3 separate regions of the Homo sapiens genome follow, and all the other regions are linked to region 1. The links come from fine-mapping of genetic effects on gene expression. A gene starts in region 1. Each other region holds a variant in brackets. All regions are shown on one strand. Distances are from middle to middle. Region 1 holds the start of CLEC17A (C-type lectin domain containing 17A). Region 2 overlaps ADGRE3 (adhesion G protein-coupled receptor E3). Region 3 has its middle 7.7 kb from the start of SNORA104.

What was found.
Region 2: its variant is fine-mapped to the expression of CLEC17A in whole blood (INTERVAL, PIP 0.96).
Region 3: its variant is fine-mapped to the expression of CLEC17A in whole blood (INTERVAL, PIP above 0.99).

The regions. Positions count from the first base shown.
Region 1 is chr19:14,581,414-14,584,266 of GRCh38, reverse strand. CLEC17A (C-type lectin domain containing 17A) reads right to left here and starts at 1,183. Exons shown (of 14, transcript NM_001204118.2): 1 at 1,064-1,183; 2 at 833-910. The coding sequence starts at 1,106. It also overlaps the pseudogene RN7SL337P. RefSeq lists an enhancer at 899-1,068 and a silencer at 1,410-1,553.
Region 2 is chr19:14,629,112-14,631,611 of GRCh38, reverse strand. It overlaps ADGRE3 (adhesion G protein-coupled receptor E3), which reads left to right. Exons shown (of 16, transcript NM_032571.5): 14 at 1,405-1,573. Among named protein-coding and RNA genes, the nearest start is that of SNORA104, 8.1 kb to the right of the region's middle. The variant G/AATAAG (reference allele first, on the strand shown) is at 1,219.
Region 3 is chr19:14,613,082-14,615,934 of GRCh38, reverse strand. It overlaps a transcript of ADGRE3 not described here. Among named protein-coding and RNA genes, the nearest start is that of SNORA104, 7.7 kb to the left of the region's middle. RefSeq lists a silencer at 1,660-1,709. The variant A/G (reference allele first, on the strand shown) is at 1,179.

The sequences.
Region 1 (2,853 bases):
TTAGGCAACCTGGTGGTCCCCTGCTCCCAAAACATCACCATATTGATGCCAAACTTAGTGCAGACGCCCGATCGCCTAGTTCACAATCGCCCAGAACTCCTGGGCTCAAGTGATCCTACTGACTCAGCCTCCCAAGTAGCTGGGACTACAGACATGTGCCACCACACACGGCCCAAACCTCTATTTTTTTTTTTTTTTGGCAGAGATAGGGTCTTGCTATGTTGCCCTGGCTGGTCTCAAATTCCTGTCCTCAAGCGATCCTCCCACCTTGACCTCCCAAAGTATCAAGACTACAGACGCACACCACTGCAGCTGGCCCAAACCTCCACTTTAACAACCACTTATCAGTCTCTTGTTGAACCCTGTGCTATGCCTTGGGTTTGAGATCCAAGTCTAAATAAAACCTGGGCTTTGGGTAGAAAGGTGAGGAGACTGGGAGCCCACAGTCCACTCCCAGTTTCTCAAGCACCAGCTTTTGTAACTCAGAGACTTTGCACCTAACTGTTCTCTCCTGGACTTCTCTTCTTAAGATATGTCTACTCATCCCTCAAGCCCCACCCCAAAGTCCCTTCCTCTATTTGAGCCCTCAGTCCCCCAAGGATTTTGCCAATCTCCTGACCCCTCCTCTCTCACCCTGCTCACCAAGACTGTGCCCAAACCCACCTCCGCCATCAGACTGACAGGTCGTCCTGGGCAGGGTGTGGGTTCCACAGTGCCCGGCATGGGCTGGATACAGAGGAGACTGACTATGTGTCTACAATGCCCAACCAATGCCCACTGGAGACCCCATTCCCTGTATTCCCCCAGGTCACACTCCAAAAAGTCCTCTTACCTGGCTTGGGAGGAAGGTCCTTGTAGGGAGGTGTTGAGTTCTCATAGTCATCATCCTCCTCCTCCTCCTCCATGGTCCCTTCCAGGGGAAAGGCAAGTCAGAGCCCAGCCATTCCCTCCTCCCTCCATCCCTCAAGCCCTGGTCTCTGCCTCAGCTGCCCCATGGTGGGGATTCTGTACCCTGGGTCCTGACCACACCTAGGCCCCAGCCCCAGCCTGGCCGGGGCCTTACCTGGTGGGTCCGGGTACCCAGTGATGGAATACAGATTATGCATGTCTAGCACAGGGAACCTGACAAGTGGCAGCCAGGGCTTGGCAACCTCTGCCCCCTGTCTCTCCGACTCAGGCGTCTGGGGGCTCTCTCAGTTCCCTTTTCCTTTCAAAGTCAAATACATGCAAATTCATTTTGACAGGAAGCCCTCAGACCTCACACGTGCTCACACAAACACACACACACACACACACACACATACACACAGAGCCTTTCTCCCCAGTTTGGATTCACGCACAGAAGGAATAATGACAACTGGCCTGGTGTGGTGGCTCTCGCCTGGAATCCCAGCACTTTTAGAGGCTGAGGTGGATGGATCACTTAAGGCCAGGAGTTCGAGACCAGGTTGGCCAACATGGTGAAACCCAGTCTCTACTAAAAATACAAAAATTAGCCAGGCGCAGTGGCAGGCGCCTGTAATCCCAGCTACTCAGGAGGCTGAGGCAGGAGAATCGCTTGAACCTGGGAGATGGAGGTTGCAGTTAGCCGAGATCACGCCACTGCACTCCAGCCTGAGTGACAGAGTGAGACTCTGTCTCAATAAATAAATAAATTAATTTTTTAAAAAACATTAAATATTAATTAATTAATTAAGGGTCTTGAGATGGATGGTTTATCCTGGATTACCTAGGTGGGCCTTAAATGGCTTTACAGGCCAGGCATCGTGGCTCACGCCTGTAATCCCAGCACTTTGGGAGGCCGAGACAGGCAGATCACGAGGTCAGGAGATCGAGACCATCCTGGCTTACACAGTGAAACTCCGTCTCCACTAAAAATACAAAAAATTAGCTGGGTGTGGTGGCGGGTGCCTGTGGTCCCAGCTACTCGGGAGGCTGAGGGAGGAGAATGGCGTGAACCCAGGAGGTGGAGCTTGCAGTGAGCCGAGATCGCACCACTGCACTCCAGCCTGGGTGACAGAGCGAGACTCCGTCTCAAAAAAAAAAAAAAATGGCATTACAAGGGTCCTCGTAGAAGGGAAACAGAAGGAGATTTGACACAAAAAAAAGGCAATGTGGTCACTAAAGTTATGCTGGCTTTGAAGATGCAAGAAGGAGCCATATGCTAAAGAATGCAACTGCAGAGGCTGGAAACAGCAAGAAAATGGATTCTCACGCTGCAGCCTCTTAAAGAAGCATGGCCCAGCCCATGAACACCTGGGTTTCAGCAGTGAGACTGATGTTGGTCTCCTGACTCCAGAACTATAAAATAATCTGGCCGGGTGCAGTGGCTCACACCTGTAATCCCAACACTTTGGGAGGCCGAGGTGGGTGGATCACGTGAGGTCAGGAGTTTAAGACCAGCTTGGCCAACATGGTGAAATCCCATCTCTACTAAAAATACAAAATTAGCCAGATATGGTGGCGCGCACCTGTAATCCCAGCTACTCAGGAGGCTGAGGCAGGAGAATCGTTTGAACTCGGGAGGTAGAGGTTGCAGTGAGCCGAGATCACATCATTGCACTCCTGCCTGGGCAACAAGAGTGAAACTCCATCTCAAAAAAATAAAATAAAATAATCCATATAATCCATTTCTGGCCAGGCGCGGTGGCTCACGCCTGTAATCCCAACACTTCGGGAGGCTCAGACAGGTGGATCACTTGAGGTCAGGCATTCGAGACCAGCCTGGCCAACATGATGAAATCCCATCTCTACTAAAGTTACAAAAAAAAAAAGAATAGCTGGACATGATAGCGGGCACCTGTAATGCCAGCTACTCGGGTGGCTGCGGCAGAAGAATCGCTTGAACCCGGG
Region 2 (2,500 bases), 48 kb before region 1:
TATACATATATAACACAATGTATATTTTTATATACACTATCACTATATATTGTGATTATATGTTGTGATAGTGTATATAAAATATATATGTACATATATATATTGTGTGTGTATATATGCCATAAATACTATAAATAGGATGGCCTCATATCTCAGCTTACCTGGAACAGTCTCAGTTTATGTCTGTCGACACAATGTAATTATTAATAGTATCCCTTTCATTTTTTATTATTATTTTTATTCTTATTGATATATAATATTTATATACATTTACAAAGTATTTGTGATATTTTGATTCATGCATAAAATGTGCAATGATCAAATCAGGGTATTTAAGGTACTCATCACCTCAAACATTTATCATTTCTTTCTGTTAGGAACAGTACACCTCCTTTTGATCACAAAAGCCTTCCTGTTTGAATAACAAATTATATGACCCCGGCCGGGTGGGGTGGCTCACACCTGTAATCCCAACACTTTGGGAGGCCGAGGCAGGTGGATTATTTGAGGTCAGTCGTTCGAGACCAGCCTGGCCAACATGGTGAAACCCCTTCTCTACTAAAAATACAAAGATTAGCTGGGTGTGGTGACGTGCCTGTAATCCCAGCTACTCGGGAGGCTGAGGCTGGAGAATCGCTTGAACCCATGAGCTGAGATCACACCACTGCACTCCAGCCTGGGCCACAGAGCGAGACTCCGTCTCAACAAAAAAAATTATATGACCCCTGTCTATAAATGATAAGAGTGAGAGAGAAAGCACCCAGGTTTTCAAATGCCTTATGCATGTCTGGTACTAACTTTGTCCCATACATTGTCCTAAATACTTTCCCATTAAAGTCTCATGTAATCTTTATAGCAACCCCACGAAATAGGACAATTATTAAGATAAGGGAACTGAGGCTGGGTGCAGTGGTTCACGCCTTTAATCCCAATACTTTGGGAGGCCAAGATGGGTGGATCTCTTGAGGTCAGGAGTTCAAGACCAGCCTGGTCAACATGGCGAAACCCCATCTCCACTAAAAATAACAAAAATTAGCAGGGCATGATGGTGCATGCCTGTAGTTAGTCCCAGCTACTGGGGAGGCTGAGGCAGGAGAATCACTTGAACCCTGGAGGTGGAGGTTGCAGTGAGTCGAGATCATGTCATTGTGCTCCAGCCTGGGCAACAGAGCAAGACTCCATCTCAAAAATAAAATAAAATAAAATAAAATAAAATAA[G/AATAAG]ATGAGGGAGCTGAGTTGCAAGAAGGTAAAGCAGCTTTCACAAGATCACACAGGTAGCCAGTGCTGGCTTCCATTTAAACTCAGGTAGTCTAGCTCCAGAGTTCTTACTATTAACAGCTAACTAGAGGGGTGTTCATGCTCATTATTAGTTTTTTGACATCCTAATCTCTGACTTCCTCCTCCCAGGATGCTGGCTTTCAAAGCAACAGCTCAGCTCTTCATCCTGGGCTGCACATGGTGTCTGGGCTTGCTACAGGTGGGTCCAGCTGCCCAGGTCATGGCCTACCTCTTCACCATCATCAACAGCCTCCAAGGCTTCTTCATCTTCTTGGTCTACTGCCTCCTCAGCCAGCAGGTAAACACTGACCCCTTTCTTTGTTATTTAAACTTAAGAAAATTTTGGAAATGGAGTTCAATGGGGATTTAAGTTGACATTCTCTAAATGTTCCACATGAGATTATAATCCACCTGTAAACACTCTCTCTATTTTCTCTACTTTAAAAATGCTACTAGTTGTTAAGATACATCATTTATTAACACATTTCAGAATATAAATAATTGCTATGTCAAAAAAAAATCATGCCTTTTTCTCAGTTTTCCCACTCGTAATAGTCAGCTAATGCTGTGTAACAAACAACCTCAAAAAATCTCATTGGTTTAAACACAAATATTTGCTTTTCTTATTCTGGGGTCTACAGGTCTATTGGGGTTCACCTGATCTTAGCTGAGCTCAGCTTGCCTTTGCTCCAGGATGCAGATCAGATTTAGGCCTGCTCCTTGTGACTCATCCTGAGGCTTAAGCAGAAGGGGGAGCAACTCCCCAGCAAATATTCTTCTCCTAACAATGCTGAAATCACAAAGAGGCAGACCCTACTGGGCAAGGTCACTCAAGCCTGTGATTCTTCCTCTACTAATATCCCATTAGCCAAAGAAAGTCACACACCCAAGCCCAAAGTCAATGAGAAAAGAACACTCAACCCACCAAGAGACTAAGACAGAGTGTAATACAACTACAAAGGAGTGAATCGTGGAGATCAACAATGCAGCTAACACACCACTTCACATGAATTATTTTTTTTCCAACTACTATTTTATTTACATTACTACCTTAAGTTACATGGAAAAAAACACCCAAGCAGTTCTGCCCTATTTCAGAAAAAGTTTCCAATCGGCAGGGTGCAGTGGCTCACGCCTGTAATCCCAGCACTTTGGGAGGCCAGCACAGGGGGATCACTTGTGCTCAGGAGTTTGAGACCAGCCTGACGAACATGGCGAAACCCCA
Region 3 (2,853 bases), 32 kb before region 1:
GATGTGTTATTGCTGGGAGCAGTGGCACACACCTGTAGTCTCAGATACTCTGGAGGCGAAGGCGGGAGGATTGCTTGAACCCAGGAGTTCAATGTTGCAGTGAGCTATGATTGCACCACTGCACTCTAGGTTGGGCAACACAGCGAGAACCTGTCTCTCTAATTTTTTTTTTTTTTTAGCAGAGTCTCTCTGTTGCCCAGGCTGGAGTGCAGTGGCATAATCTCAGCTCACTGTAACTTTCGCCTCCCGGGTTCAAGCAAATCTCCTGCCTCAGCCTCCTGAGTAGCTGGGATTACAGGCACGCACCACCACGCCCGGCTAATTTTTGTATTTTTTAGTAGAGATGGGGTTTCAACATGTTGCCCAGGCTGGTCTCGAACTCATGGCCTCAAGCGATCCACCTGCCTCGGCCTCCCAAAGTGCTGGGATTACAGGCGTGAGCCACCACACCTGGCCAGAGATGCTGTCTCTCTAAAAAAAATTTTTTTTAATTTTAAAAATTAACCAAAAATGTGTTAGTTGAGCAGGCTATCTCTCTAGGCAGGTGGAGCTTTACCCTAGTGGGGACTTTCAGGAGATAATGTGGAACATGCATCTCAGAGTCACCTCTCCCGAGGAACGAGGGAGCTGGGGTGGGAGATGGAAGTTGCAGTGAGCCAAGATCACACCACTGCACTCCAGCCTGGGCAACAGAGTGAGACTCCATCTCAAAAAAAAAAAAAAAAAAAAAAAGAAGGCAGCTGTAGAAAGAGATCAACAAACAGTGGGAGGCACAGATGGAATCTGAATCCCAGTTCTGCCATTTACCCACTAAATGACAATGGACAAGCCGTGAGACCCCACCTCTGGGCCTCAGTTTGCCCAGGTATAAAATGGGGTTGGTTAGCCAGGTGTAGTGGCACACACCTATAGCCACAGCTACTTGGGAGGCTGAGGTGGGAGGATCACTTGAGCCCAGGAGGTTGAGGCCACAATGAGCTGTGATTGCACCACTGCACTTCAGCCTGGGTGACAGAGTGAGACCCTGTCTTTAAAAAAAAAAAAAAATGGGGGCCGGGCACAGTGGCTCACACCTATAATCCCAGCACGCAGCACGTTGGGAGGCTAAGGCAGGCAGATCACTTGAAGCCAGGGGTTTGAGACCAGCCTGGCCAACATGGCAAAACCCCATCTCTAGT[A/G]AAAATACGAAAAAATTCACTGGGCATTACGGTGTACCTGTAATCCCAACTACTTGGGAGGCAGAGGCAGAAGAATGGCTTGAACCCAGGAGGCAAAGGTTGCAGTGAGCCGAGATCACACCACTGCACTCCAGCCTGGGAGACAGAGTGAGACTCTGCCCAAAAAAAAAAAAAGATTGGCGGGCGTTGGTAAATATTCCAACCTCACAAAGTCATGGTGAAGATTCAATGAGAGCCACTGCATTTATTTACCACACAATATATGTTTGATAAACCATGGTTATTATTTTTATCCAACTGTTGCTCCCCTGGACCTAAAGTGGTAAAAAGTGACCTCTTTCATATTTACCTCTCTGCAATTAGATAATCATGAGAGATGTGGAAGGGAGATAGGTTGGGACCAGTTCCACCAGGGGCCTCCTAGAGACGTGACCACAGACCCCTGCTTCCCCATTTCTCAATACGCATATCAGAAAACAACTTCCCTCTTCTGAAATGTGGGAACTTCCCCTGACCCCAGATAAAGTTGCTTGACATAACAGTCCCCTGGGTGGAGGGTTTACAACACGACACCCACCCACTCAGCAGGCTGCGGACAGTACAGGAGCTGGCTTTGGTAGTGATGCATCAGGGCAGCTGCAGAGGTGGGCAGAGGTGAGAAGAGAGGACAGACAGAACCAAAACTCAGTAGTGGGGTCGTGCCTGTGAAATGCCACTGCACTCCAGCCTGGGCCACGTCCTGAGAACCCATCTCTTAAAAATAAATAACGAGGCTGGGTGCAGTGGCTCACACCTGTAATCCCAGCACTTTGAGAGGCCAAGGCGGGTGGATCACTTGAGGTCAGGAGTTCGAGACCAGCCTGGCCAAAGTGGCGAAATGCCGTCTCTACTAATAATACAAAAATTAGCCGGATGTGGTGGCGCACACCTGTAATCCCAGCTACTCAGGAGGCTGAGGCACAAGAATCGCTTGTACCCAGGAGGAGGAGGTTGCAGTGAGCCGAGATCATGCCACTGTACTCCAGCCTGGGTGACAGAGTGACACTCCATCTCAAAAAAAATTTTTTTAATAACGAAATAAAAGAACAAGTAGATTTAAAACAAATCAAAGAAACAGGAAGTGAAATCAGCTCCGACCTCTCCCACCACCTGCTCTCCTCACAGTCTCCTTGCTATAAGCACCTGTTCTCAGACAAAACAGGAAAGATTCTGCTATTGATTAAGGGAGCTTATTGATCAATAAATTGATCGCAATCCTTGTATTTTAGGAGGCTGAAGCAGGAGGATTGTTTGAGACCAGGAGTTTAAGCCCAGTCTGGGCAACAAAGCAAGACCCCTGTCTATACAAAAAAAAAAAAAAATTAAAATTAGCTGGGTGTGGTGGGGGCACACCTGTAGTTCTAGTTATACAGGAGTCTGAGGACGGAGGATTTCTTGAGCTCAGGTGTTTGAGGCTTCAGTGAGCTATGATTACAACACTGCACTCCAGCCTGGGCGACAGAGTGAGACCTTGTCTCAAAAAATAAAATAAGGCCAGGCATGGTGGCTCACGCCTGTAATCTTAGCACTTTAGGGGGCTGAGGTGGGCGGATCACTTGAGGTCAGGAGTTCGAGACCAGCCTGGCCAACATGGCAAAGCCCTGTCTCTACTAAAAATACAAAAATTAGCCAGGCA